Linked DNA regions of Homo sapiens. The protein of the gene in region 7 interacts with the protein of the main gene of each other region in a pairwise test. Each region holds a gene or a part of one and is shown on either strand. Other genes may lie near its edges. The genes, in order: KLHL5, ZMAT4, KLHL7, KLHL2, UBXN7, GMCL1 and CUL3.

What was found.
Region 1: the proteins of CUL3 (region 7) and KLHL5 interact in binary tests that used the Homo sapiens proteins (3 or more experiments, as listed by UniProt).
Region 2: the proteins of CUL3 (region 7) and ZMAT4 interact in binary tests that used the Homo sapiens proteins (3 or more experiments, as listed by UniProt).
Region 3: the proteins of CUL3 (region 7) and KLHL7 interact in binary tests that used the Homo sapiens proteins (3 or more experiments, as listed by UniProt).
Region 4: the proteins of CUL3 (region 7) and KLHL2 interact in binary tests that used the Homo sapiens proteins (3 or more experiments, as listed by UniProt).
Region 5: the proteins of CUL3 (region 7) and UBXN7 interact in binary tests that used the Homo sapiens proteins (3 or more experiments, as listed by UniProt).
Region 6: the proteins of CUL3 (region 7) and GMCL1 interact in binary tests that used the Homo sapiens proteins (3 or more experiments, as listed by UniProt).

The regions. Positions count from the first base shown.
Region 1 is NC_000004.12:39,123,589-39,127,267, reverse strand, and holds the end of KLHL5 (kelch-like protein 5), read right to left. Parts: 3' UTR 1,035-3,679; downstream 1-1,034.
Region 2 is NC_000008.11:40,670,301-40,674,728, forward strand, and holds part of ZMAT4 (zinc finger matrin-type protein 4), read right to left. Parts: coding exon 4,404-4,428; intron 1-4,403.
Region 3 is NC_000007.14:23,164,485-23,168,912, reverse strand, and holds part of KLHL7 (kelch-like protein 7), read right to left. Parts: intron 3,216-4,428; coding exon 2,975-3,215; intron 1,078-2,974; coding exon 876-1,077; intron 1-875. UniProt on the Homo sapiens protein: Substrate-specific adapter of a BCR (BTB-CUL3-RBX1) E3 ubiquitin ligase complex. The BCR(KLHL7) complex acts by mediating ubiquitination and subsequent degradation of substrate proteins. Probably mediates 'Lys-48'-linked ubiquitination.
Region 4 is NC_000004.12:165,318,386-165,322,813, reverse strand, and holds part of KLHL2 (kelch-like protein 2), read right to left. Parts: intron 1,503-4,428; coding exon of another isoform or gene 1,489-1,502; exon of another isoform or gene 1,463-1,488; intron 783-1,462; coding exon 754-782; 3' UTR 1-753. UniProt on the Homo sapiens protein: Substrate-specific adapter of a BCR (BTB-CUL3-RBX1) E3 ubiquitin ligase complex that mediates the ubiquitination of target proteins, such as NPTXR, WNK1, WNK3 and WNK4, leading most often to their proteasomal degradation.
Region 5 is NC_000003.12:196,359,008-196,363,435, reverse strand, and holds part of UBXN7 (UBX domain-containing protein 7), read left to right. Parts: intron 1-748; coding exon 749-1,142; intron 1,143-1,512; coding exon 1,513-1,592; intron 1,593-4,428. UniProt on the Homo sapiens protein: Ubiquitin-binding adapter that links a subset of NEDD8-associated cullin ring ligases (CRLs) to the segregase VCP/p97, to regulate turnover of their ubiquitination substrates.
Region 6 is NC_000002.12:69,874,025-69,878,452, reverse strand, and holds part of GMCL1 (germ cell-less protein-like 1), read right to left. Parts: intron 1-4,428. UniProt on the Homo sapiens protein: Possible function in spermatogenesis. Enhances the degradation of MDM2 and increases the amount of p53 probably by modulating the nucleocytoplasmic transport.
Region 7 is NC_000002.12:224,501,186-224,505,613, forward strand, and holds part of CUL3 (cullin-3), read right to left. Parts: intron 2,638-4,428; coding exon 2,467-2,637; intron 1,888-2,466; coding exon 1,780-1,887; intron 1-1,779. UniProt on the Homo sapiens protein: Core component of multiple cullin-RING-based BCR (BTB-CUL3-RBX1) E3 ubiquitin-protein ligase complexes which mediate the ubiquitination and subsequent proteasomal degradation of target proteins.

The DNA.
Region 1 (3,679 bases), on a different chromosome or scaffold from region 7:
CTCACTGCAACCTCCGTCTCCTGGGCTGAAGTGATCCTCCCACTTCAGCCTCCCAAGTGGCTGGGACTATTCCTGGCTAATTTTAGTATTTTTAGTACAGACAGGGGTCTCAAGATGTTGCCCAGGCTGGTCTCGAACTCCTGAGCTCAAGCAATCCCCCAGCCTCAGCCTCCCAAAGTGCTGGGATTGCAGGTGTGAGTTCTTTATAGCAGTGTGAAAATGGAGTAATAACAAGGTATTTATGGACCTTAAAGCAGGAGTGTAAGGGTAATTTTGACCACATTCGTTACACAGGTCATGGTAAACGATTACATTTGTACACATTTTGGTGCCTTGACGTCAGCAAGGGTTGCCCAGTAACTTCTGACACACATTCATTCCGGAGATGTATAAAAATTCTAGTTACTTACATTAAATACATTTTTGGTAAAGAAGCCTAGTACAAGATGCCGGCTTTAGATAATAGGGCAGTCTAATGACTTCTGAATTCCTCAGATAAGGAGTTTTGCCTCCAGATGGTCTGCTTGATGGCCACCAGGTGATCTTTGCTGTCCTCAAAAGTATGTGAAAATACCTGAATTAAATATAATTGTTTATTATCCACAAAGAAATATGGTCAAATGGAACCAGCTTGAACCTGGGCAAAGATCCAGGGCACTAGATTTGCTTCCCGAGCTTCCCTGGGTTTGCTTTCTAGATTATACCTCGTTAGCCCAAATAATTACCCAGGACTAGGGGGAAATGAGGGTGGCAGTGAAGTCTAGCGATGATGCCAATACCCACATCTGTCAATACGGCATTTCTTCAAGAGGCTTGCAAGTTGTTCAGCCCCAGGAGAAGATACAAAAAAACACGGTACTCTCCTACATCTCAGGAATGAGGACAGAGGCTGTGATGGAAGAGGTGGTGCGTTCATATAAGTTCTTTAAGACTCAGAATGATGAAAATGCCATAAGTAGCCTGTAATTTTTCATGGCATTTGATTTTTTTTACTCCAGTTAAAAAATAAAAAATATTACATGAGTATTATCTAGTCACAGTGAAATTAAATATCATTTTATTGAATATTTGTTTTTGTGTAAGAGTTATCAATAATTTCAAATATTACAGAGTTCATGAAAAGATGTCTATTTCAACTTTCAGAAAACATTTGTGGAATGCCTGCCATGTACCGGACGGTGGGGAAGTTCCCCGTTAACTCTCCCCTCATGGTTCTCGTTGTTTCTCACTCCCTTCTTAGGTTGAAATTAAGATTTAAGAGCCTTTCTGTTAGATTTTTAGAAATTCATTTATTTGCAAATTACAGTGAAAAATTTCTCTTCCAGATGCATATAAATCCGAAGTTTTTATCCTAGTGAAGCGTACAGAATGCTATTGTTATGACATTTAAGTATCATAACATAATGTAGCTAATAAAGCTTTTTAAAAATTATGGTAAAGTGTATGTGAAATTTACCATTAGTGACATTGAGTACCTTCACCATGTTGTGCAATCATCCCCAATAAGTAGTTCCAGAACATTTTCATCACCCTAGAAGGAAACTCCTTTTTAGCAATCTCTCCCCACTCCTTTCTCTCAGCTTCTTACAACCATTTATCTGCTTTCTGTCTCCATGGATTTGCCTATTTTGGATATTTCATATAAATGCACTCATGCAATACGTTGCCTTTTGTGTCTGCCTTCTTTCACTTGGCAAAAATGCGCTCAAGGCTCATCCATGCTTTAGCATGTATCAGTCCCTCATTTCTCTTTATGGCTGAATATTCTATTGTGCCGTGTGGAGATACCACAATTTGTTTATTCATTCATCAGCTGATGGCCATTTGGGTTGTTTCCTCTTTTTTGGCTACTGTGACTAGTGCTGCAATGAATATTTGCGTGAAAGTTTTTGCTTGAACACCTGTTTTCAGTTCTTTTCAGTATATGCCCAGGAGTGGACTTGCTGGGTCATATGGTAATTCTTTTTTTTAACTTATTGAGGAACTGCCAAACTGTTTTCCACAGTGGCTACACCATTTAACATTCCCACCAACAACGAATGAAGGTTTTCAATTTCTCCACATCCTCTCTAACATTTATTTTCTCTATTATTCATTTTTTTTCCTGTAGGTTTAGATCCTAGGTCTATTTCGTCATTCTAATAGGTGTGAAGTGGTATCTTCTTGTGGCGCTGATTTGCATAATGACTGATGAGGTTGAGTGCTTTCCATGTGCTTGTCGGCCATTTGTATATCTTCATTAGAGAAATGTCTATTTAAGTCCTTTGCCCATTTTAAAATTGGTTTGTCTTTTTGTTGTCGAGCATCGGAGTTCCTTATATATTCTAGGTATTAGTTCCTTACCAGATATGTAAGATTTACAAATATTTTCTCCCATTCTGTGGGTTGTCTTTTCACTTTCTTCATAGTGTCCCTTGATATGTAGAAGCTTTTAATTTTGATTTTTTTTTTTTTTTTTTTTTTTTGCTGTTGTTGCTTGTGCTTTTGGTGCCATATCTAAGAAACCATTGCCAAATCCAAGGTCATGAAGATTTATTCCTGTATTTTCTTCTCAAAGTTTTATGGTTTTAGCTCTTACATTTAGGTCTTTGATCTATTTTGAATTAATTTTTATATATGGTATGAAGTACAGGTACAAATTCATTCTTTTGCATGTGAATATTCACTTGTCTTAGCACTATTAGTTGAAGACACTGTTCTTTCTTCATTGAATGGTCCTGGAACCCTTGTCAAAAATCAATTGACCATAGTGTATTGGCGTAATTTGTTTCTGGACTTTCCATTCTACTCTATTGCTTTATATATTTTTATACCAGCACAACACTGTTTTGATTGAAGTAGCTTTGCAGTAAATTTTGAAATTGGAAAATGTGAGTCCTTCAACTTTATTCTTGTTCAAGATTGTTTTGAACAGACTTGAGTACCTTCAGTAACTTGCAATCCCATATAAATTCTAGGGTCAGCTTTTCAGTTTCTGTAAAAGGGTCACTGGAATTTTAATGGGGATTGTATTAAATCTATAGACTAATTTTGGGAGTAATGCCATCTTAACAATGTTAAGTCTTCCAACCTGCCAGCACAGGATGTCTTCCATTTATTTAGGTCTTCTTTAATTTCTTTCAGCAACGTTTTGTACTTTTCAGTGTCCAAGTCTTGCACTTTCTTGGTCAAATTTATTTCTAAGTATTTTATTCTTTTTCATGTTATTGTAAATGAAATTGTTTTAATTTCCCCTCAGGTTTTTCTTAGACTTTTGTGTGTTGATCTTGCAACCTGCAACATTGCTGAATTTTTAAAATCAGCCGGAATCATTTTGTGGATTCTTTAGGATTTTTAATATATAGGACCATGTTTTCTGCAAATGTAGTTTTACTTCTTCCTATTTGGGATTCATTTTATTTCTTTTTCTTGCCTAATTGCTCTGGCTAGACCTTCTAGTATAATGTTGAATAGCAGTGGGGAAATCAGGAATTTTCATGATATTAGGGGAAAAATTTTCAATGTTTTGCTATTATGTTGTTAGCTGTGGGTTTTTATGGATGTCTTTATCAGGTTAAGAAAGTTCCCTTTTCTTCCTAGTTTGCAGAGTGTTTTTACCATGAAAGGGTGTTGGATTTTTGTCAAATGCTTTTTCTTATCAATTGAGGTGATCATGCTGTTTTTTCCCCTTCATTCTATT
Region 2 (4,428 bases), on a different chromosome or scaffold from region 7:
TTCTGCAACTTTCTGTAACAACTGTGTAAATATATAAAAATGAAATAAATTTTAACCTTTACTTCATACTGTACACAAAAATTAATTTCAGATACATCATAATCCTACATGTAAAAGTTAAAACTATGAAATTTGTAGAAGAAAACATACAAGAATATCTTGGTACAGGCAAAGATTTTTTTAGGTAAGACACAAAAAGCAATGATTATAAAAGAATAAAAAAGTTAAGTTAGCCTCCCAAAATTTAAAAATGCCTGCTCATTGAAGGGCTTAAGAAAATTAATAGCCAAGTCACAAACTAGGAGAAAATATTCATAATGCATATATTCAACAAAGAATGTGAATCCATAATACGTGAAAGCCTTCTACCTCATCTCAAATAAAAGGCAAAAAATAAATTTTTAAAAACAGATAAATGACATAAACAGACACTTCACAAAGGAAGATACACAAATGACCAATAAGCACATTTAAAAAGTACTTGACGGCAGGGTGTGGTGGCTCACACCTGTAATCCCAGCACTTTGGGAGGCCAAGGTGGGCAGATCATGAGGTCAAGAGATCAAGACCATCCTGACCAACATGGTGAAACCCCGTCTCTACTAAAAATACGAAAATTAGCTGGGCGTGGTGGCACTGCACCTGTAGTCTCAGCTACTTGGGAGGCTGAGGCAGGAGAATCTCTTGAACCTGGGAGGCAGAGGTTGCAGTGAGCTGAGATCATGCCACTGCACTCCAGCCTGGCAACAGAGCAAGACTCCATCTCAAAAAAAAAAAAAAAAGTACTTGACATCATTAGTCAATATGGAAATATGAATTAAAGGCATCATGAAATACCCTCCTATATGCACTAAAATGGCTAAAATTTAAAAGACTGACATGAGCAGATGTTGGTGAGGCTATGGAATTTTTATATGTTGGCTTTTTGAAGTGCAAAGTAACGCAACTATTTTAGATTTTGGCAGTTTCTTCTATAGTTAAAAATACATGCAACTTATGACCCAGCAATCCTATGCCTATTTACCAAGAGAAGTAAAACATATGTTGACCAAAAAAAAGTCTTGTGCCGTAATGTTCATGAAAGCTTTATCTAAAATAGCACCAAAATAATCCAAAGTTCATCAATGAATAGAGTGGATAGACAAACTGTGGTATTTTTGTGTATAGAATACTACTCAGTAATAAAAAAGGTACTACTTTGCTTTATATGCTATAAATGGATAAATTTCATAAACAATGTGTGATCCACAATAAGCCAGACACACAAGAAATACATATTTTATGATTCCACTTATATGGAGTTTTAGAACAAGCAAAACTAATCTATGATGAAAAAATGAGAAAAGTGGTTCTCTGGAATGGAGGGTTGGAGTTGACATGGGAATTTTCCCATGATGGAAAAGTTACGTATCTTAATAGGGCTGTGGGTTACACAGGTGTTTGCACTGTCAAAACTCATAGAACTGTAACATGTAATATCTCTGCATTTCACTATACATATAATATGCATCATTTTAAAAAATTAAAACAAAATTAGAAATAGTTTCTTATAAAAAATATTAAATCAGAATCCTTCTAGAAATGAAAATGATTGCCATGTTAAGAATGTAAGATTTCAGGTGATTTTGTTTTAGGGCATTCTCTGTTCATTCATTCATTCATTCAGAAACTATTGAGTAACTATTATGTGTCTGCCACTACTCTAGGTGTTTTGAACATATAAATGAGCAAACCAGACATAAATGCCTGCTTTTAAGATGCTAATAATCTATAAAGTAAGTAGAGAGAAAGAAAATACAAAAAAAAGTAAGTAAACAAGACAGTGTTTAAAAATGTGAGAAGTGCTATGAGAGAAAGAGAAAAAGCCTACCATCCTATTATATTGCTATATCGTGCTTCAGCTGCCTGATACCATTTTATTAAAGTCATGGATATGCCTATATTTATGGATTAGCATTTTTGCCTTTATTAATTGATTGATCATACATTAGAAGCATTCCAGGAATAGAGGGGTGTGTGTGTGGCCTGTGTGTGTGTGTTTCAAAGTGCTGGGTTACCATAGTTGCTTTATTCTTAAGCTTTTGCAATATTTAATGCTTGAATAAATATCTATCAGGATATCACCTGGAGCGTGTGGAAAGTTTGGTTTCAAGGACATTGTGCTCAATGCTAATCGCATTCCATGGGCTACTGAGTCACAGTCACATTGAGTTATCGAGTCAAAGCAGCCTTTTTGTCTTCTGTATGAAAGACAAGCTGCTCAAATGTTACAGAATTCAGACACCAAAGTCATTAAGATGTAGTTGTACATAAAAGATACAGCACTGATAATTCAAAATAGACAGGAAGAATGTGCTGTAGGAATAATTTTTCTTCAAGTCATAATAACTGGCACCAAACATAAAGTCCTATTTTTCTCCTTCACTGCCCAGCTGGGAAGGAGTCACTGAGACAACTTGTTATCTGCCAGTAACACAGGCATTGCAGTTAGGCCTTCAGCTATGGAGAGATCCTGCCTATTTTCTTTAACAAGACATAGACTGAAAACATATGAAATCCTCCATCAAAAAGCAGTAGTACCATTGACTCAAAAGCTTCTGCAATGAGCTTATCCAACATACTGAAATAGGAAGCACCAAGTTGCTTTTCTGTAGCTAGAACACATACACATAAATAAAGTGTTATTAATGTTTGCTCTTTTTTTGTTGTTTTTAATCAGGTCTTTTGGAAAAAATCAATCTCGAATCAAGCTCTATATACTTAGCCATGGATCTCCAACTTTAAATCTATGCTGCAGTATAAGATTCTTCCATGATGACTTCTTAGCTGTCTCTAGCTTGTTTCCTGACCTTTGCCCATGCGTATGTGATTCTGCTCACATGGAATGCCTTCTCACCTTCTAAAATGCCACCCACTTTTCTAGTTCCAAATCAAGTATATTCCCTTGGTGAGATCTTCTGCAACCAACATATTAAGAAGTGACCTGTCCCTCCTCTCAACTCATTGTAGCATGACCTTTTATATTACTTATTTTGTCTAGAAATGTTCCAAGTCATTTTCTGTTATAATTATCCCCCTTACAGGTTCACAGCCAGATTACGGTAATTAGAATTGTAGGCTCTGTATGCAGAACCCTGTTTAAACTGAGGTTGCCGTCTCCAAATTGATTTGCAAATGTTGTTATCTATAGCTTGCAGCCATTATGAATGACCTGCCCACAAAAGCTCATCAAACTTACACCAAATCTGAAGTATAGTATCAATAGCACCCCTTGCAGAATTATTTTTATTTTTCTGAGAAAAATGCATTTTCTCAGAAAATATAATATGCAATTTTGCTGTACTTCTATGCTGCCAACATCAAGCTGATCAAAAGTATGTAGGTGATCAAAAATGCTTAAATGGTTGCTGGTGATAAAATATTCTATTTAGTCCCACAAATTGGTTGATGGCTTCCTAAGGAATCCACAGAAGTAATCCTCACGCTATGTTTTCCAAATTCAGCAGCTTCTGTGAAACCTCACAGGAACTTCAAATGATACATGGTTTCTAGCTGTCAAGAAAACCCTGTCTGGGGCAGGGGCATGGTGCGGAGGAGACAGGTGTTGACTACATAGTGCCACACAGCACTGTCTTGCCGTGATTTCCCGGAGATTTTATTGAAGGGGCTTGGGCTTGCTTCAAGTCATTAAATTGAGTCAATTTGTTGCTTTGTTTTGGCTAAATTTATAAAAGCACAAAAGTTTAAGGTAAGATAATACTATTTGGCCTTTTTATCATCTTTTTTTTTTTTTTTTTTTTTTTTAAATTTTTGAGACAGAGTCTCACTCTGTTGCCCAGGCTGGAGTGCAATGGCAAAATCTCGGCTCACTGCAATTTCTGCCTCCTGGGTTCAAGCGATTCTCCTGCCTCAGCCTCCCAAGTAGCTGGGATTATAGGTGCGCACTGCCACACCTGGTTAATTTTTGTATTTTAATACAGACGGGGTTTCACCATATTGGCCAGGCCGGTGTTGAACTCCTGACCTCAGGCAATCTGCCCACCTCAGCCTCCCATTCAGCATCTTTTTTTTCTTTTTTAAACACTGCTACTCTACAAAAGCATTTGGTAAAGAAGGCAGTTAAAGATAAAGCAGAAGGAAAACAATCTGGTTCATGAATGTGCCTTTGGTCTGAAAAGCAGTCAATAAAAATATGAAAATAAACACTTTGAAACAAAGGAGATTATAAAAATTAAACTAAAGCAAGCCTTCTGCTCATTTCCTTTCTTGTCCATTTCTTTTGGGTGAGCCTCACTTTTTCCTTAATAATTAAAGCAAGAAGAAGAATCATTCCGATTTGTGAAAGCCGCATCTTTTCTCTGAAAGCCCAGTTTTGTGGCAGAAGTGAGAAGAGCTGCCCTTACCTCTCAGTTCCCCCATATCCAGGGT
Region 3 (4,428 bases), on a different chromosome or scaffold from region 7:
AATATTTCCTAAATATAAAACTTTAAGCACGAGAGTTTTGATGCAACTCTGGCATAGCATTTTAGTGAACGTATTCACCCAGTAACTTGTTCTAGTAAGGGAAGAACGATGGGCAATCCAGCCATATGATCAAGTGACTTTTCTTATCAAAGCTCTTTGGATGTTTCCATAAAAGGTACGACTAGGGTATCATCTGTTTTATGTCCTCATCAGCTTTAATGTCACTACTCACAACCCGTGCCCTCATGCCCTCTCCATTATTCAATGATTAGCACATTTCCTTTGGCTACATTGAATGTGTTCCATCATTAACTACAAGGTCAGAAAAACTGGCTAACCAGTTATTTCTTTAGCATTTTACCTTTTTGACACACTTTGCCTTTTTAAAAGCAGTTGATTTAAGAATAATTTTATTTAATAAACATGAATCTAAATGTACTTAGGAAGTTTACACCTAAAAAGAACTAGGGAGGCATGATTTATTAATGCCATGAGCCAATATCTAATATTTCTACTTAAGGATAAATTTATTGCTGGTCATAAACTCCCCCCTCCTCCTCTACATTTCCTGACCGCTCAAACAAAAACATTTTATGAGTTGACGAATCAATCAGATGTGTCTCATTCATAGGCATTTATTGCACGCAGAACCAGAAAGAAAGAGGTTCCCATGGGGTGTAAGTTCAAGCCATTTCTGGTGTAAGGGAAAGGTCCAGGTCATAAATATGCCACTGACCCTAGCACACTCAAAAGTTTATATACACTCTTCACTCAAGGACAAAATTCTTCTGTTGGGTTCCTCTGGTCTTTTGACATCTCCTACAGAGCTTATAGAATACAGTTAACTGTAAAATAAATTTTAAATAGATACATACGTTTCTGTGGCAGGATCATAAACTTCACAGGAATTAAGCACTCTCCCAGAAACATTGTTTCCTAAACTTCCACCACAAACATAGATTAGGCCATTGGCTTCCACCATCCCATGGCTGCAGCGCTGGGTCAGCATGCTGGGCTTTGTGTGCCAGCTTTCAGTTCTCGTATCATAGCACTCAAATAAATACAGAGCTGAGTTTCCTGTAAAAGAAAAAGGCCCCATCATGCTTAACTTTAGTGTGTGCGGGGGTTTGGAAAGAACTGACTGTAGATCTTATTAGTTAAGGAAGGAAGAATTTAGGGTCATACGGCCATTTTCATACTCAATCAACAACAACAAAGTGTAGGAATAGTTTAAGAAAACGCTAATAATCCTGTTTGTATAGACCCTGGAAAACATCCTTAAAAGGATCTGTTGGAAATACTTATTTATTGGTAATTAAACTTTAGAAAAATAAATTTGATTTCAAAAGAAAAATTAAATAAGAAGCCTTATATATGTCTTCAAGCCCCATTATGCATGACGGGAATTATCCATACTTCAAATGTTTATATAAAGTGGAAAAGCATAATAGTTCCTTACAGATGGTAGACCCATACCTTAAAATATGAAAACTACTATCTGATCATATTCTTATTTAATATTCTGGAATAGCTACAGCACCATTAACAAAATTATATTTCCTAACTATTCTCAGTTAGTGTGGTATATCCTGAAATCACACTGGTCCCTGCTTGAGTATATTCTCAAAATATTGATGTATATTTCTGATGTATTTTGATTACACAATTTAAAGGCAAAACATACATTCATCATGTTTTGAAACTTCTACACACTGTAGGAGTTCAATAAAAAATTTTAGAAATGATACTATTAAAGTTTAAGTGCTTTTTTTTTTCCTTCCCAAGGACAAAAAATTTTAGAAGTTACCAAACTATTTCTCATCTCCCACCATTCTGGGCTAATATCAAATGATTTAAAAACGACAACACCTTTATAATTCTGCGTTGCAACTAAGGTCTGTGAAAAGTAAAGATCAGAAAATAACAACTAGAAGAAGCAATGGTCATGACCAAAAATAACTTATTTTTAACTTTTTAAACATTCCTGATTTGGTAGGTTCAGTGGGTGGACACTATAGGAAAATATATAGTATATAGTAGATTAAAAAAAAACTACTACTTAAGCTAAAAACACACTTAGCAAAGGCTGAAGAAATGAAGTTATCTGCAGTACCACAGAACAGTTACCGTCTATCATCTTTAGGATTTATTGTATTTGAAATATTCTACATTATAACAGTCTGTGAAGAATGCTTTTAAAGAGAGGAAATGGTTACATTTAGGAAATAGTGATTTTTCTTGTATTCATTTGACATATAGTTGAGGGTAAAAACATAAGTATGCAGACCAAAAGTATAACCATTTACGGTCTCCCTAGTTTTCTTTATTAGCCCATTATTTAAGCTAAAGAAATTACTTGAAAATGAAAGCATACAAAAGCTATTATGTATCTAGCCTGCACCTATTCATTTAGAAAAATTATTCATTTAGAAAAAGAGCACTACTGGACACTAACACACTATCCAATAAGGTTTTTATATCCACACCCACATCCCATTCTGCTCAATAAGCATAAATACCACTACAGTCATTAAAAACTTAAAGAATAAAACAAATGAAAAAGAGCATTCTTTTTTCTAATAAAAAGAAAGCAAATATAATACAAATTTTAAAAGCCTGAATATAGTAACGAGTTCTTAAAGAGTCTATAAGTTGAACTCTGAAATCTTTAAAACAAATAATATTATGCAGCCCAAATAATTTAGAACTATAATTCAGATAATGTCAACTAATGCTTCATTATGATAAAAAAAATGGGCCATTAATCTAGGAAGCTAAAGTTCTGTAATTTAATGGTTTGTAAAGCAACGACATAAACCTTCAGGGAGATGAGCTCTAAAATGTGACAAACACATATTTAAATTACCAAGAAAGTATCTGGACAAATAATACCAGCTGTTTATTTAAATATGAAAGCCAAGATACTTGGCTTTAAAGCATATGCCCCAAACCAAAATACTTAAGAAGTCCTTACCTACTTCTGAACCTCCAGATGTATAAATTTTGCCTTCTGCAGCACATGCAGCAAGGCTGTCTCGAGGTGTCGGAGGACCCAGTTTCGAATACCAGCTATCCTTCACTACATTATAGCAGTCCATTCGCTTTATTGGGAAAAGCTGAGAGCCTCCCAAAATGTATACTACATTGTCCCAAAACACGCATGCTGCATCTCTTCGTTTTTCAAAGGGGCAGCGGATGTCTGTCCAGCTATAATCCTGTAGCAGAAAAGGATGGGAAGCTTTCAGTAAGGAAAAAAATATAACTGAAAAGGACAATGCAAAGATACAGTCAAAAAACATATAAGAATATGTTAATTTATTAGACTACACATACAAATGTTTGGCTTGAGACTATTACCAATTTAATCTTGTGTGGTTTCTGCAGAATGTTGATTAGATGGGGCGGAGGGCAAAAGGCAGGCACATGACTGCTTTGGGTCCTTTCTGGCTCTAAAATAAACTTAAATATATTTGGATATACCATCACCACCCTGTCTTCTATTCCTTCTGTTATTGAAGACAATACAAGAAGATTCTAAAATAAGTTGTTTTATTTTTTAAAAAAGCTTTTTCAAATGTAAAGGTCTCCATCCCTTCCCTGCCAGATATATAGTGTGATATAAGTAATCAATGGATAATATGAAGCTCAAATTGCCATTATCCTACTGATAGTCTAAAGCCAGAAGGTATTTTGTGGACTTCTTTATTAATTTTCTATATTGAGTTGAGCCAATGTAGTCAGCTGGACTTTAAAACTGTTGATGTTTATAAGGAAATACTTGAGTAATCTCTTCTAAGTACTCTGGATACTCACTTTTCACCCCAATGATTAGAAATACACACCTATCAGTACTTGACAGTAAGGGCTGTTCACAGCATCTGTTTCTTCACTATGTTTGATAGCATCGAAGAATGCTTGTGCCGCCCTTCCATGTATGTGCATGGGGGGATGCCCCTAAAGTTATAGTATCTTGGACCCTCTCTTTTTTTGAGATAGGAAGCTACAGCGTTCCTGCTATTTTCTGAAAATAATCAGGGTCAGATAGGAATTCATACCATTCCCAATCTCACCAAGGAAAGCACTATGTGTGATTATTGAGTTTCCTTCGAGAAAATCTGACTGATAACCTATGATCGTATCCAGTGTTTCAGGCATTCATTGGATTAAAGTATCACAGAACATCAGGAATGGTCTCTTAGGAAAGGAAGAGCCCCTAATGTAGAATACTTTGACTCCTGACAAAGATGAACATTTTGCTTTTTAGGTGACCAGGAAAATAGAGCCTTAATAGCTTAGGATGTTATTCTCTAATTAATATCCCCGTAGGTTACTCAGTGGTGGGCACACAAAACAATGTGATAAACATAACATGTTCGTGAAACTTCAATTCCACTCAATAAACACTTGAAAAACTGGGGGAAAATATTT
Region 4 (4,428 bases), on a different chromosome or scaffold from region 7:
TATATTGTATTTTAAAAAGTTTGGCATCACACATATTCAAGTGTGTTACACCAGGTCCATTCCTCAGAAGTGGCATTTAAAGTGTTAAGCATTGTTAAATATCAAAAAATACAACTCTGTTTTACAATGTAGTACTGGCATAATTCAAAGTACTGTGCCAATTATAAATAGTATAATCAAGTTTCAAACATCTTTTCAAACATATTTAAAGGAAAGCATATAGACACACATTTATATGCACATAATTTATTATATTCATGTAATCAAAGTTATTTTATAAAAGCAAACAGTGTATCCCTCAACTAGTTTGTATACTTACGTAGATTTTAATATCTGTTCAAAGATTTTCAGTTCCTGGTATACAGATTTTTAGAAGAAATAAAGATAAAATTTAATTTTACAAGAACACACATTACTTCATCCTCCTTCACAAAATAATCTGTAGTCATTCAAGGTTGATAAGAACTAGTCTTTATGAAAGCAACTGTTGTCTAAAGACTACAGATTAAGTCCTGCAGTCCAAGTTTCTTATGAAAATTCAGTCAGCTGCTGCTCATTGCAGAAAAAGCCTACACGGTGCTTCTACCAAAAATAATCTTCAGTATCTGAGGCCTATAAAGGCAGACGATCGTATCTTCTGCTGAGACTTAAAGTGCAGCTACAAGTGGAGAAGTGCTAGATTCTCAGTCACTTCACAAATACTTGTTGAAGGCTGTTTCTCATGTATAAATATGCTGAAAATGTCCTTCAGGCTCATAATGGTTTATCAATAACTGTGACCCCTGAGCAAAGAAATGAAGAGAGAAAAAAGAAGTCACAGGCAGCACTCTGTATCTCTGAGAAAACACTCAATTCTTCATTATAATACGAAGGCAGGAGGAACTGTACAAATCATGTTTCAGAATCTCTTTCTTAAACTTTAGTAGTATTATCATTTGAATCTAAATGACAGTGAAAACTCTGTTTAGTTATGGGCTAGTTAAATATAAGACTATTTAATCCAGAACTAGTCTTTTCCTCTTTGTAGTTACAATTTGGAAAATATACTCAAAAGGGAACACAGAAACTTTTGAGCATGATGGATATGTTCATTATCTTGATTGTGGTGATGGTTTCATGGGTATATACTCTGTCAAAAGTAATAAAATTATATAGTTTAAATATACAGTTGACCCTTGAACCGACATGGGGGTCAGGGGTGCTGACCCTCCACGCAGTCAAAAACCCATGTATAATTTTTTACTCCCGCATAATTTAATTACTAATAGCTTACAGTTGACCAAACGCCTTACTGATACAGTCAATTAACACATATTTTACATGTAATATATGTTATGTATGTCATAACATGTTATGTGTTATATATTGTATTCTTAAAGTAAGCTACAGAAAAGGAAATGTTATTTAAAAAGTCATAAGGAAGAGGAACTATATTTACTATTCATTAAGGGGAAGTGGATCATCATCAAGGTCTTCATCCTTGTCTCTTCACATTGAGCAGGCTGAGGAGGAGGAGAAAGAGGAGAGGTTGGTCTTGTTGTTTCAGGGGTGGCAGAGGCAGAAGAGGTGGAGGAGGTGGAAGGGAAGGCAGGGGAAACAGGAGAGGCAGACACACTTGGTGCAACTTTAAGGAAATACACTGTTAATTCCTGTCTGACTTTTTTGTTTTTTTCATTTCTCTAAAAATGTTTCCACATAATACCAATCGTCTTTCCACTACTTTCTTCAGTTACAGTGCACATATCATAGAAGGGCCCATTTCATAAAGTAAGTCATAAACAGTCTTGAATAACCAAACCCTTTTGCCAGACTGTCTAATGTCAATTTGTTTTCTGACATTGCTTCTACATCTTCTTCATTGTCTGGCAGTGGTTAAGAAGCACTCATCTCCGTCGAGTCATGTTCTGTTAATTTCTCTGGTTTGGTATCTATTAGCTCTTGAATTTCTCCAAGATCCATACCTTGAAACCCTTCACCATCAACCTTTATAGCCACATCCATGATCTCTTTCATGATTTCTTTGACTGGCTCTGTCATAACTCCTGTGAAGTCATACACAACATCTGAACACAGTTTTTTTCCAGCAGGAATTTATTGTTTTGGGTTTGATGACTTTCATAGCTTTTTCTATAACAATGATATATTCAATGGTGTAATCCATCCAGACTTTCATGTTTTCTCTGTTGAGATTCTCTTCCATAGCACTGGCAATTTTTTCCATAGAGTGCCATGTATAATGAAACTTTAAGGTTCCTATGGTCACTGATCTAGAGGCTGAATTAGATACATTGTGTTTAGGGGCAAGTAGACCACTTCTATGCCTTTGGTGTTGAACTCATGGGGTTCTGGGTGGCCAAGGGCACTGTCCAATATCAAAATAAAAAGCAGTCCCTTACTGGCATGGTACTTCCTGAACCTGAAGCATAGATGGAACCAGTCCGGGAAAAGATTTCTTGTCTAGGCCTTCTTGTTATACAGTCAAAAGACTGGCAGCTGGTATTTATATTTTCCCTTCAAGGATTGGGGGTTAGCAACTTTTTAGATAAGAGCAGTCCAAATCATAAACCCAACTGCATTTGCACAAAATAGTAGAGTTAGCTTATCCCTTTCTGCCTTAAATTCTGGTGCTTGCTTATCTTCCTAATAAATGTCCCTGGTGGCACATTTGTCTGCATTAAAAACTTGTTCAGGCAGATATCCATTCTCCTCAACAACTTTCTTCATGGCATCTGGGAGCTCATCTGCTGGCCCCTTGGTTGACAGAAGTGTTCTCCTGTTATCTTGACATTTTTTGAGCCAAACCCCTTTCCAAAATTATCAAGTCATCCTTTGCTTGAGTAGGCTGAGGAAATTCTCCAGCTTTAGATCCTTCACCTTCCTTTTGCTTCAGGTTGTCACATAATGACTTTCCTTTTTCTCAAATCATATTAGAGTTGACAGGTATGCCTTTCTTACAGCAATCCTGCACCCACCAAAAACCAAAACCAAAAAGTCAAAAATAATAAAAATAATAAAAATTTAAAAATTAGCCAGGTGTGGTGGCACATCCCTGTAATCCCAGCTACTCAGGAAGCTGAGGCATGAGAATCGTTTGAATCTGGGAGGCGGAGGTTGCAGTGATCTGAGATCACGCTGTTGCACTCCAGCCTGGGCGACAAGAGTGAGATTCTGTCTCAAAAACAAAAATCCTGCACCCACATAAAAGCTGCATGTTCAACACAAGATAAAAAGGGATTTCACAAAAAGTGTGAAGTTTTCAAAACTGCTGGGATGGCTGCAGGGACGGCTTCATGAATTTCCTTTTTCCTTTTTACAATGATCCCTACCCTGGATTCATTTATTTTGAAATGGTGGGCAAGTGCAGCAGCAGACCTCAATCCATGGTATATCTCAAGCAATTCAGCTTTTTCTTGTAATGTCATGACTCTTCTCTGCTTCGTTGAAGCACTTCCTAGCACCATCACCGGTGGCACTTTGTATGGGTCCCATGGTATTATTCAAGGTTTATGATATTGCAGTAAACATGATGAAAAATAAGGCAGAACCATGAGAGAGAACTTTTTACTGAGATACGCATCGCTGAAGAGACAAACTGCTCTTTCAAAGGTAATTAGCCCCCCACAGCTTTTTAAGTGGATACTCACAACAGCTGAGCTCACCAATACAGCAACAGGAGACGGCTATAAAATTATTATAGTAGTACAGTAACATACTACAGTTAATTTCATGCAGTTATGATTTAATATTGTATCTTTGTGGTTTGTTCACATTTCTCTGGACTGTGAATGACACCATCTATGGTTTGTGGGTGTTTGTTCCCATAAGAGTTTGTGTGCATATGTTTTGATAAATTTTAACTTTTTGTAACAGATTTGTAGATATTTTGTAGTAAATGATAAAACAGACTAGTATCTACGTATATTTTATGTGTTCATAATCTTAAACTTAATTTTTTCAATATTTCTAGGTTATGCAGTGCATCTGAGTTTTTTCAAACTGTTACCAATCTCCAAAAAAATTTTTCCAACATAATTATTGAAAAAAATCCACATGTAAGTGGACATACACAGTTCAAACCTGTGTTGTCCAAGGGTCAACTGTACGCTATGTATTCTGTCAGTTTATACCTCAATGAAGTTGTTTTAAAAATTCATCTAATATTCACCCATGTTATACTGGAATTCTACTGTACATAGTTCTTCTCAGTACTGTTTTGAATGATACATAAGCAACAGTGATGGTTAATGAGCTTAAACATTTTCTTCCTCCACTATTGGATCAATTTTGTTACAGAAACATTATACTATTAAAAGCAAGATAAATATAATTGAAATAAATAACATAAAGACTCACCATAATATTTATTAAAATTAACATTTATCTTACTAAGAGAATGGACCAAAAAATCACATTTTATAACTCAACCAG
Region 5 (4,428 bases), on a different chromosome or scaffold from region 7:
ATCCACCCACCTGGGCCTCCCAAAGTGCTGGGATTACAGGCATGAGCCACCCGGCCTGGCCTTCATTTTGATATTTAAAAAAATGCGTATGCTTACTTGAATCCAGAAGTGCAAGACCAGCCTGGGGAACTTAGACCCTGTCTCTTAAAAAAAGAAAGAAAAAAAAATATGTGTATATATATATTTATGTATGTATGTATGTATGTATGTATGTATGTATGTATGTATGTATGTGCCAGGTGCGGTGTCTCACGCCTGTAATCCCAGCACTTTGGGAGGCCGAGGTCAGGAGTTTGAGACCAGCCTGGCCAATGTGGTGAAACCCCATCTCTATTAAAAATACAAAAAAATAAATAAATAAAAATTAGCTGGGCGTGGTGGCGGGCGCTTGTAATCCCAGCTACTTGGGAGGCTGAGGCAGGAGAATCGCTTGAACCTGGGAAGGCTGAGGTTGCAGTGAGCCGAGTTCGTGCCACTGCACTCCAGCCTGGGCAACAAGAGTGAGACTCCATCTCAAAAACAAAACAAAACAAAACAACAAAAACGTGTGTGTGTGTATATACACACACATATATATATCTCCATTCCAATTTGGCTGTGTAAGACACAGTCCTTGCTCTTAAAGTAGAAGGGATACAGTCAGCAGAACATAATAATGAATGGCAAGCTATTATATTTCTTATGCCGTTTGACTTGTTTTTTGGTTTAACTTGTTCTTTTTCCTGTGTTTTATGACTCCATCTCACAGGAGAGCCTTATAGATGCAAGTGAAGACAGCCAGCTAGAAGCTGCCATCAGAGCCTCCTTACAAGAAACACATTTTGATTCAACACAGACAAAACAGGATAGCCGCTCAGATGAAGAATCTGAATCTGAACTTTTTTCTGGCAGTGAGGAGTTCATATCCGTTTGTGGCTCTGATGAAGAAGAAGAGGTAGAGAATCTTGCCAAGTCCAGAAAGTCTCCCCACAAAGATTTGGGGCATAGAAAAGAGGAGAATAGAAGGCCGCTGACTGAGCCACCAGTCAGAACTGATCCTGGAACAGCCACAAACCACCAAGGATTGCCAGCTGTGGATTCAGAGATACTGGAGATGCCACCTGAAAAAGCAGATGGAGTAGTGGAGGGGATAGATGTAAATGGTAAGTTACATTTAGACATACTTTACTTCAAACTTAGATATTGGGGCCGGGCGTGGTGGATCACTGAGGTTAGGAGTTCCAAGACCAGCCTCGCCAACATGGCAAAACCCTGTCTCTACTAAAAATACAAAACTTAGCCAGGTGTGGTGGCACGTGCCTATAGTCCCAGCTACTTGGGAGGCTGAGGCAGGAGAGTGGCTTGAACCAGGGAGGCGGAGGTTGCAGTGAGCTGAGATCACGCCACTGCACTCCAGCAAAACACTTGAGTAATTGCTGAATGGCTGTATTTATTTACATATTTATTTAAACTAATATTCTGTCTTAAACTCCTGTATCCCGTTTTTTTTTTTTTTTTAAACCCTTCCTTTAGGACCAAAAGCACAGCTGATGTTGCGGTATCCAGATGGAAAAAGGGAACAGATCACTCTTCCAGAGCAAGCTAAACTGCTAGTAAGTACAGGCTTGCTTTGGTTCAGTTCCGACCACTGCAATAAGACGAGTCCCAAATTGTTTGGTTTCCTGGTGCATATAAAAGTTATGTTTACATTATTCCATAGTCTATTAAGTGTGCAGTAGCTTTATGTCTAAAAAAAAGCACATAACTTAATTAAAAAAAGCTTTTGCTAAAAAGTGCTAATGATCCCCTGAATCTTCAGTGAGTCATCTTTTTGTTGGTGGAGGGTCTTGATATTGATGGCTACTGACTGATTGGGGTGATGGGTACTGTGGCAGTTTCTGAAAATGTGACAGCAGTGAAGTTGCTGCATCAGTTGCTTCCTTCGACAAAAAATTTCTCTGTAGCATGTGCTGCCGTTTGATAGTATTTTACCCACAGTAGAACTTCTTTCAAAACTGGAGTCAGTCTTCTCAGAATTTGCCGCAATTTTATCCACCAAGTTTATGCAATATTCTAAATCCTTTGTTGTCATTTCAACAGTGTTAAAAGCATCTTCAGCAGAAGTAGATTCCATCTCCAGAAATCACTTTCTTTGCTCATCCATAAGAAGCAACCCCCCTCCCTTTAATGTTTGATCATGAGATTGCAGCAATTCAGTCATATCGCCATCCTCCACTTCTAATTCTAGTTCTCTTGCAGTTTTTACCCCACTTGCAGTGACTTCCTCCAGTGAATTCTTAAACCCCTCAAAGTCATCCATGAGGGTTGGAATCAACCTCTTCCAAAGCCCTGTTCATGTTGATATTTTGACTTCCTATGAGTTGTGAATGTTCTTAATGGTATTTAGACTGCTGAATCCTTTCCAGAAGATTTTCAGTTTACTTTGCCCAGATTCATCAAAGGAATCTGTATTTATGCCCAGGCTGGTGTGCAGTGGTCATAGCTCACTGTAACCTTGACTCCCCGCCCCGGCTCAAGTGATCCTCCTGCCTCACCCTCCTGAGTAGATCACCACACCCAATTAATTTTCTTTTTTTTAGAGATGGTTTCTTGCTGTGTTGCCAGGTCTTGTCTCAAACTCTTGGACTCAAGTAATCCTCTCACCGCAGCCTCCCAAAGTGTTGAGATTTGGCTCCGTGCCTGGCCAAAATGTGTTTCTTAAATAAGATTTAAAAGTTGAAATGACTCCTTGATCCATGGGCTGCAGAATGGATGTTGGGTTAGCAGACTGGAAACAGCATTCATTTTTATTTGCATTTTCGTCAGAGCTCTTACGTGACTAGGTGCGTTGTCAATGAGCAGTAATATGTTGAATCTTTTTTCTGAGCAGTAGGTCTGAACAGTGGGCTTAAAATATTTAGTAAGTTATGCTGTAAATTGATGTGCTGTCTTTCCAGGTTTTGTTGTTGCAGTTACAGAACACAGACAGAGTAGATTTAACATAATTTTTAAGGGACCTGGGATTTTGGAATGTTAAATGAGCATTGGCTTCAACTGGAAGTCACCAGCTGCATTACCCCCTAACAAGAAAGTCAGCCTTTTTGAACCTTTGAGTGCAGCCACTGACTTCTCTCTAGCTGTGAAAGTCCTTGATGGCATCTTCTTCCAATAGAAGGCTGTTTTGTCAAACTTAAATCTGTTATTTAGTGTTGTTACCTTCGTGAACTGTCTTCACTACATCTTCTAGATAAGTTTCTGCACCTTCTGCATCAGCACTTGCTGCTTCACCTTGCACTTTGATGTTATGGAGATGGCTTCTTTCCTTCAACCTCATGAACCAACCTCTGCTAGCTTCCAGCTTTTCTTTCGTAGCTTCCTTAACTCCCTTAGCCTTCATAGGATTGAAAAGAGTTAGAACCTTGTTTTGGATTAGGCTTTGGCTTAAGGGAATGTGTGACTGGTTTGATTTTTCTGTACAGACCACTAAAACTTTCTCCTTTTCAGCAGCACAGCAGTAAGGCTGTTTTGCTTTCTTTCCTTTTTTTTTTTTTGAGACAGAGTCTTGCTCTGTCACCCAGGCTAGAGTACAATGGTGCGATCTCAGCTCACTGCAACCTCCGCCTCCCGGGTTCAAGCAGTTCTCCTTGCCTCAGCCTCCCGAGTAGCTGGGATTACAGGCGCCCACCACCACGCCCAGCTAACTTTTGTATTTTTAGTGGAGATGGGGTTTCACCATGTTGGCCAGGCTGGTCTCGAACTCCTGACCTCAGGTGATCCACCCACCTCAGCCTCTGAAAGTGCAGGTGTGAGCCACTGCTCCCGGCCTGTTTTGCTTTGTTATCATTTGTGTGTTCACTGGAGTAGCACTTTTAATTTCCTTCCAGAACTTTTCCTTGCATTCACAGCTTGGCTGTTTGGTGCCAGAGGCCTAGCTTTGTGTCTGTCTCAGCTTTCCACGTGCCTTTCTCACTAAGCTTCATCATTTTTAGCAATTGATTGATTTTGAGGATGGACACTTCCTTTCACTTGGGTACTTAGAGGCCTACACTGGTAGGTTATTAATTGGCCTACTTTCAATACTGTCATGTCTCCGGGAATAAGGAGGCCTGAATAGAGGGAGAGAGATGGGAAAACTCCCATTAGGTGGAGCAGTCAGAACATACTTCTTTATTAAGTTTGCGGTCTTGTGTGGGCGTGGTTTGTGGTGCCCAAAAGCAGAATAGTAACATCAAAGGTAACTGCTCACAGTTCATTATAATAGATAAAATAATGAACTGCAAGCATTACCAAAAGGTGACACAGAGACAGGCAGTGAGCACATGCTGTTTGAAAAATGGAGCCAATAGAGGCACTTGACACAAGGTTGCCGCAGACCTTCAGTAACTTGAAGCACAATGAAACAGGGCGTTGGAAGCATTTTCTCGAAGCAGAGAAGCTAATTCATTGGAG
Region 6 (4,428 bases), about 150 Mb from region 7:
CTGGCCTTGAACTCCTGGGCTCAAGAGATCTTCCTGCCTCATCCTCCCGCCTCAGCCTCCTGAGTAGCTGGGACTACAGGCAGGTGCCACTGTGCCTGGCTACTTGGCTTCAATTACTGATGGCCGTTGGGTACAGCAAATCACCCAGATGAAGGTCGGGAGTCATTATCATCATCAAAAAGCAGGGTTCCTACTATTGACATTTCCCACTGTCCCTATGACAAACATGTAATTTGTCTCCTGAAACATAAAATACATTATCATGGAAAAGCAATTTCAGGTTCAGTTACATCAACACACACAAGAATGCTCAGAACTCCCAGAGACAGGAGCTGACACTACACAAATATAACATCCCTGATGCTACAGATCTCTGTTTGGAACCTCATATATCCTTTACTAGAAGCATTTGGTAAATAGAATCAATCCTCAGAGTAAAAGAAGAAACACTAAAATGAGAATTCCTACGTTTTAAATGCCTGGGATATGCTCTCTGCAATAGTATGCATTAGTTACACTTTATTTATTTTGGATAAGATACTATTAAACACTGTTTAAATCCAAAGTTTTAATTTTTTACTGAGACATGTATTCCTGCATGAAGAGGAACTAAAACTAGAATATCTGTGTGACTGAAGCAGACTCACTAGACACAGCTTCTGTGTTGAGGGAACAAGAAGATAAATTTGAATAAAGAAGGTAGAGAGTACAAATGTCTCACACACACACACACACACACACACACAAACACACAATCTCTCTCTCTGTACGAGGGAAAGTGGTATTATAAAAAGACATCAGTGAACAAAATCAGGGGAGGCCATCACCTAGACTGTGCTAACAAGTGTCACCAGAGAGGAATTATGCCAAAGCATGGTTGGTCTTCAGATGCTTGAGACATCCTGAACTAGTCAAAATTTATATCAATAATCTGGGTGAAGGCACATTTACCAAATTTGTTGAGGACAAATGTTTTGATGATATGTATATCTGATGATAAAAATCAAGATTCTGTTCCATAACTAAAAGGCTCTGAGGAAGATTAGCCTTCTAGTATTTGAATACAGTTAAGATTGAGGCAGGGAAGGGTAGGTCAAAGGGCCAACTCTGGAGAAAGAAGGAAGGCACGTGGATATCACTTGGCTGAATGGATACACCAATTTTTGAATATTAAATTGTATTAATCCCCACTCTCCATTCCCAAACAGGATAGGTCGATCCGAGCTTCATCAAATCTGTTGTTTCACCTAAAGGTTCAATCTGCATCTACATTTGCATTGAAGTACCTTTATAGCAAAGTTCTATTTTCCTTATTCCATTGTGGATGGAATCTGTGGAGCCCACATATAGCAGCAGCAGAGCAGCAGCAACTTCCTAGGTCCCCATTTCTACTTCCAGACAATTAAATAAATTTCTGGGTATTTGTTGTTGTTGGTAGTGTTTTTTGTCTGTCTGTTTTTGTTTTGAGACAGGGTCTGACTCTGTCACCCAGGCTGGAGTGCGGTGGCATGATCATGGCTCATTGCAGCCTCAGCCTCCCAGGCTCAAGTGATCTTCCTGCCTCAGCTTCCAAGTAGGTGGTACCACAGGCACATGCCACCACGCCCGGCTAATTTTTCAATTTTTTGTATAGATAGGGTTTTGCTAAGTTGCCAGGGCTGGTCTTGAACTCCTGGTCTCAAGCAATCCTCTGGCCTTGGTCTCCCAAAGTGCTGGGATTACAGGCATGAGCTACCACGCCAAGCCTGCAATTTGGCTTTGATTCTCCATCCCAGCTTTTCAATGTCTCACCAGGTTACCTTTTTTGTCCATCTCTTAAATACCAGTGGTCCCTAGGGTTCTATCCTGTCATATTCTCTACACATTTCCTGTACATTATCTCATCCAATTATTATTTCTAGTTCAGGCATTACTTGTAAACTCCAAATCCATTATTCACCAGCCTATCAAATTTTCACCTTGATGCTCTCAAATTAAACATGCCCTAAACAGAATTCATCATCTCTTCACCATCACCAACACTATGTCATGTTCATTTTCCTTCCTATAATTCAAATCTCAGGTAAAACCACTACTGTAAATTAAATTGCTCAAATCAGAAAACCATCTGACATTTCCTCATGCACACACACAATTAAGAATCAAATTCTCAATTGCACCACTTTATTTCCAGAACCCATCAATATTTTCCTCTTCATTGCTACATTCTTTAAGGTTCTTATCACTTTTAATCTGAATTATAGCTATATAATCATAAATTGTTTTATTGCCATTATCATATCTTTAATCCTTCCTACACATTGCTGTCTGACGGAACCTTCTATAGTGAAAATCCATTTAGCATGGTCTTATAAGATGGACAGTTACAAAATAAATATACAAAAATCACTAACTTTCTTACATTATCAAAAACTATTAGAACAAATGATTCATTTCATATTAGCAACTGAAATGTAAAATACTGGCTGGGTGCGGTGGCTTACACCTGTAACCCCAGCACTTTGGGAGCCTGAGGTGGGCGGATCACGAGGTCAGGAGATCGAGACCATCTTGGCCAACAGAGTGAAACCCTGTCTCTACTAAAATACAAAAAAGCTGGGCGTGGTGGCATGTGCCTATAATCCCAGCTACTTGGGAGGCTGAGGCAGGGGAATCGCTTGAACCCGGGAGGTGGAGGTTGCAGTGAGCTGAGATCACGCCACTGCATTCCAGCCTGGCGACAGAACAAGACTCCGTTTCAAAAAAAAAAAAAGAAATGTAAAATACTAAGTGTTATACTTCCAGGAAATACACAGGAACAATATGGGAAAAACTACAAATTTTAGAGACAGACATAAGGGAAGACCTACGTAAATGTAGAAAATACCATATTCCAGAAAGGAAGACATCAATGGTCCACAAACTACTCTACATATTTAATCATATAAATTAAAATCCCCATAGGAATTTTTGCAAGGAAACTTGATAAAATGATCCTACATCCCATACAGGAGAATAATCATGCACAAAGAACTGAGAGATTTTTGAAAAAAAGAAAAATGAAGGTGGTTTTGCGTAACTAAATATTAAAATGCATTTTAAAGTTAGCCTAATTAAAACAATGCCTTGTCTTCATAACAAAGAAATCAATAAAACAAAAAGTCCAGAAATGAAAGCAAGTTTATAAGTATTTCATGTACAATAAGGCATTTCAAATACATTGATACATCCAGTACATTTCAGATATATCGTCAAATACTCCAAAGTAAAAAATTAAGCCATAAAAAGAACAGAAGAATATATAGATGACTATTTATATAATCCTAGTAAGATGGAGGCCTAAGGATAACACCAAAAAAAAGAAATCATAAAAGAAAAAGATAGATTGTTTTGAAGGTTGAAAAGACAAATGACAAAAATGTAAAAACTGTTTGGGCCTGGTGGCTCATGCCTGTAATCCCAGCACTTTGGGAGGCGGAGGCAGGTGGATCACTTGAGCCTAGGAATTCCAGACAAGCCCAGGCAACGTGGCAAAACCTCGTCTCTATAAAAAAATACAAAAAAGTTAGCTGGGCATGGTGGTGCGAGCCTGTAGTCTCAGCTACTTGTGAGGCTGAGGTGCGTGGAAAGGTTGGGCCCAGGAGGTGGAAGCTGCAGTGAGCCAAGATTGTACCATTGCACTCCAGCCTGAGTGACAGAGTGACAACCTGTCTCGGAAAAAAAAAAAAAAGTAAAAACTATAGAGTATCACAAATGTATTTTTAATATATAAAAGCTGTTAAAAATTAGCAAGAAAAAAATGAAATTTTAATAAAAAATTAAACAGGAACAATATAAGCTGTCAGTTTACATGAGATGATACGTTCAATAAGCATAAAAAAACCCAACAATACAGTAACCAAAGAAATGAAAATTGAAAATTAAGGGCCAGGCGCGGTGGCTCACACCTGTAATCCCAGCACTTTGGGAGGCCAAGGCAGGTGGATTACTTGAGGCCAGAAGTTCAAGACCAGCCTGGCTAACATGGTGAAATCCTGTCTCTACTAAAAATTAGTGCACTCCAGCCTGGGCGACAGAGCAAGACTCTGTCTCAAAACAAACAAACAAAAAGAAATGAAAATTAAAACAAATATTTGTTTTCACATTTACTACGCTGGGATAGAGATGAAAAAGAATAAGATACAATATTGGGTATACTCTCCTGTACTGCTGCCAGGGGGAAGTATAAATTGGACAGTAGCTTTGGAGGGCAATTTGGCCATTAGAAAATTGTATGCACCATGCAACAAGAATTCTACTTCTTGGAATTTATGCTTTAAAAATATCATAAAAATGGACAAAGATATATGTATATTTCCTATAGTAATGAAAAAAAATGAGAAACAACTTTATCCAATAAAGAGGAATTATCTAAGTTACGGTATAGCCAAAACAACTAATATTATGCCG
Region 7 (4,428 bases):
TTACTATCTTAATACATATTTCTAATATTCCAGCACCTATTTCAACTACAGTTAATTAAAACTTTTACGTTTTAGCATGTAGCTCACATTCTAACAACCTCTGCATACAGATCCAGTGCTATAACACTATAGATCCAGTGCTACAGAGCAGGTGCTCTACAAATATCTGTACAATGAATAACTACTTCTATGCTAGTATCAACTGTCACAATTATTTTCTTCCTTTAAACAAATTAAATTTTTAAGTAAACAACAATAAGGCACAACAAAAACTCTTAAAGATTAAATATTATTTCTATTATTGATATTCAGGATGTGTTATAAACCATCATTCCATTTTTATCTTACCTCAATGATTTAGTAATGTAAATTTTTAAGGGGAGGAATCAGTTTATGAATATCAAGAAGCATTCTACACTCCGATTTCTTCACAAGTATCCACTAAATGATTACTTAACTTTAAGGAAACTGAAAATAAACTTGGATGATGCACAGAAGAGAGGATCATAGAGGAGACTCTTAGATGGTGTACTGGGGGAGGTGGAGAACTGTTTATACATTCGCAAGTTGGTTAGGGGAAGGGAGGGTCACAAAGTGGACAGTCCATCCATCCCATATCAATATGCATGGGATCTAGCCCAATCTTCCCTATAGCTTTCAATGTGTAAGATTAGTGGAAGAAAAAAATTTAAAAACTTACTAGAGCAAACAAAAAAATACAAGAAAATATATCAATATATTAGATTTAACTATAAATTCCTAAACAATCTAAAAATAAAAATCCAGGATAATTACACCACTATTTCCTGTCCACCCGAAATTTCTGTCATGGACTTGCATCTTTCCTCCTCTCAGCTCTTCTCCACTGTAAACACTGATATTTATAAAGCAAATCATACAACTATTTACATTAGAGTCAGAATGTTTTCATAGAAATGAATGGTTATTCTACAGAATTACGTATTTTCACGTATCTGGTTTGCGAGACTATAAGGCCAGTAGAAGTGATGATCTCATATTTAGATACCAAAGGAAAAGACTCACAAATCTGTTAAATGGTTGTGACACATTTTAACCATAGAGTGGTACACGGTGATTTTAAAAATTTAAAAACTGTACAATTCTCTAAACTTAAGGTTAAGTTGAAAATCAGAGTAAAAAATGAAACTAAATTCTGAATTTCATTAAATGCTCATAAAACTCCCATCAGACTCCAAAGCTAAAGAAGTTCCAGCTCACCACCTTTGGGGAGTTATACCAAACACATTTATAATACATTAATTTCTGTGTTTTTATAGTCTCACTTCACCTGCTACGCACCCTTAGGATGTAAGTCCCATTTAAGCTAAACTTACAGAGGAGAATAATAGTAGTGAGGTATAGGAAGGTCAGGTGACTATCCCAAGATGACACAATCTTGGGGTAAAGTGAAAAGAAGAGTACTGAAACTCAGTAAACTTGTGTTAAGCCCAGTACTCTTTCCACAATTTATAATAGATTTGTATTATCTTTATTAACAACAGAATAATTCTCTTTATTAAATTGTCAGTGTATTCCTTCAAGTGGGAAGAAACAACTAAATTTTAAAAGAATAAAAAGTTTTAACATAAACACAGAATAAGAGGCAATGTGAAGGAAAATTAAGTACTCACAGATAAAACACATGTTGTCACTAATGACATTTAAAGAAACAACTGTCATCTGCTAAGTGGATGAAAATATACCCATTACAAAAGACTTTACATGAATATCTAAGTAGAAATTAACGCAGAATCTTACACCAGTTGCCTGTAGATGTTGCCTGAATTCATCCATCGTTGTGTTTGAGATGCTCATATCCCTAAACATTCCTTCCAGTTTTGACGTGAACTGACATCCACATTCAGTCTGTGGAGGAAAAACACAAATATACACAAATAAATGGTAGATGTTTCTATGAGAAAGTACAGAAAGAAATAAATTATTTCATGTTATTGCTATCCCTGATAATCTTCCTGTAAATTTTTCCAACAGTTGCTCTGTGCCTGTGGTTATCAAACTTTAGGATTTTAAAATGCAAATTCCCAGATTCTTTCAGAGATTCCAATATACCCCCATGAAAGGCAGGGCCCAGAACTGTTTTTAACTAGCATCTCAGGTGATTCACGTGCAAGTATTCTATGGACCACACTTTGTGAAAAAGAACTACACAGCATAGCCTCTTTATTGTTTCCCTTTTACTAATCCTCCCTTCCAGGCCTCCATGAATGTATCCTGACACACCAACAGAAATTCCAGCAAACTCTGAATGTCCCTGAACTTGAACAAATGTTAGTGTAGTCTGTGTTCTTCTCCAAAACAATCTACCTTTATTTCTAGAAATAAACACTTAATAATCTACCAAATTAATTTCCAATCACGTTGTCAGTACACAATCATAATAAACCTCAGTTAGGTGCACTCTATTTCATCTAAAACACACCTTACCTTTAACTTAGATATCATGTTTTTTTCAGAGTCATCAGAAACACTTTTATTTGTGAGAAGTCTCCTTGCCAAGTGTTGTTTATAATAACGTTCAAATACATCTTTTTCTTGCATAAACCTAAAAAGGACCATTGCTTTATCCAATATTGTTTCTACTTCTTGTTCTGTTAGCTGCAAAATTAAGATGATGTAACAATTATACAATTTTAGTTCTACAAAAGCAGTACTACGGTTCATTTACAGCTTAAAAACACTATTGTTTGAAAACATAGATATCTGGTTGACATACATCAAAAAAAGGGATACGGTTTGAGAAAGTGTCTCCTACTTCACACAGTAGCATCATTCTTACATTCTCATTTAGTGCATCATGAATGAGGGGTTGGAGTGGAATTCTATTCCGTAGAGGGCTACCACTGAATTGGAGGCATAAGGTAATATAGCGCTGGGTTAAGGGATGATTGAGAACAGATGAAATGAAATTTTAGTCACAGAGATTATTTTATGAAGCCTTTGCATATGCAGGCAAAAACTTACACAGCCAAAAGACGGAATTTTTCATTTAAGCTCACTGAAAGCCTCAACTGTGCAAACAAAAGGCAATAATTTGTTATAATCCAAACAGTAAAAAGGCCATTGCCCTTACTTTATTTTTTTATTTCTATTTTTTTTTTCTTTTGAGACGGAGTTTCACTCGTTGCCCAGGCTGGAGCGCAATGGCGCCATCTCGGCTCACCGCAACCTCTGCTTCCCGGGTTCAAGCAATTCTCCTGCCTCAGCCTCCCGAGTAGCTGGGATTAGACATGCACCACCACACCCGGCTAATTTTGTATTTTTAGTAGAGATGGGTTTCCTCCATATTGGTCAGGCTGGTCTTGAACTCCCAACCTCAGGTGATCCGCCGCCTTTGCCTCCCAAAGTGCTGGGATTACAAGCGTGAGCCACTGTGCCTGGCTGCCCTTACTTTTAAATAAGGGCAAAAGGATTCTGTGGCAGGTTGTATTAATATATTTGAAAAACGGAAGACCAAATGAATGCATAAATTAATAGACTTTTCTATTCTGTGCAACCTTAGTGATTTTGTTCCCTTATTGCAGCTACTGCCTGTAAAACCTGTGACGACATGTTGCTTTTCCCTTTGGTGTCACAAATTCCAAAATGAAGTCAAAAGAGACCAATTCAGATGTGAGCATGTTTTATGCTTCAGTTGATTTTCTATGCTGTCGTGAGCTCCTCAGGTTCCAGAGATATCATATATCACAAAGGCTTGAAATTGAGCTACACCAACCATTTTCTGAGATGAGATCTACTCTATCTATGCCTTAATATTCTTGGCATCCAATTATTGTTTGACATATAACCTTCAGAACCAGATGAGAGCAAACAACACTCTCTACTAGAAAGTTTTCTAGTTCTTTATCTTCAGCATGCCTAACTCTCAGTCATAAAAATGACTGTTTACCAACTACAGCTGTGTAGTTGTTCAGTTTTTTTTTTTTTTTTGAGACGGAGTTTCGCTATTGTTGCCCCAGCTGGAGTGCAGTGGCGTCATCTTGGCTCACTGCAACCTCCGCCTCCTGGGTTCAAGTGATTCTCCTGCCTCAGCCTCCTGAGTAGCTGGGATTACAGGCATCCACCACCATGCCCAGCTAATTTTGTATTTTTAGTAGAGATGGGGTTTCACCAAGTTGGTCAGGCTGGTCTCAAACTCCCAACCTCAGGTGGTCTGCCCACCTCGGCCTCCCAAAGTGCTGAGATTACAGGCATGAGCCACCATACCTGGACAGTTGTTCAGTTTTTTTGAGACAAGGTCTTGCTCTGTCGCCCAGCATAGAGTGCAGTCACGCGATCACAGCTCACTGCAGCCTTGAACTCCTGAGCTCAAGTGATCCTCTGCCTCAGCTTCTGGGACAACAGGTGTATACCACTGTGTGCCACTAATTTTTTTCTTTTTTCTTTTTT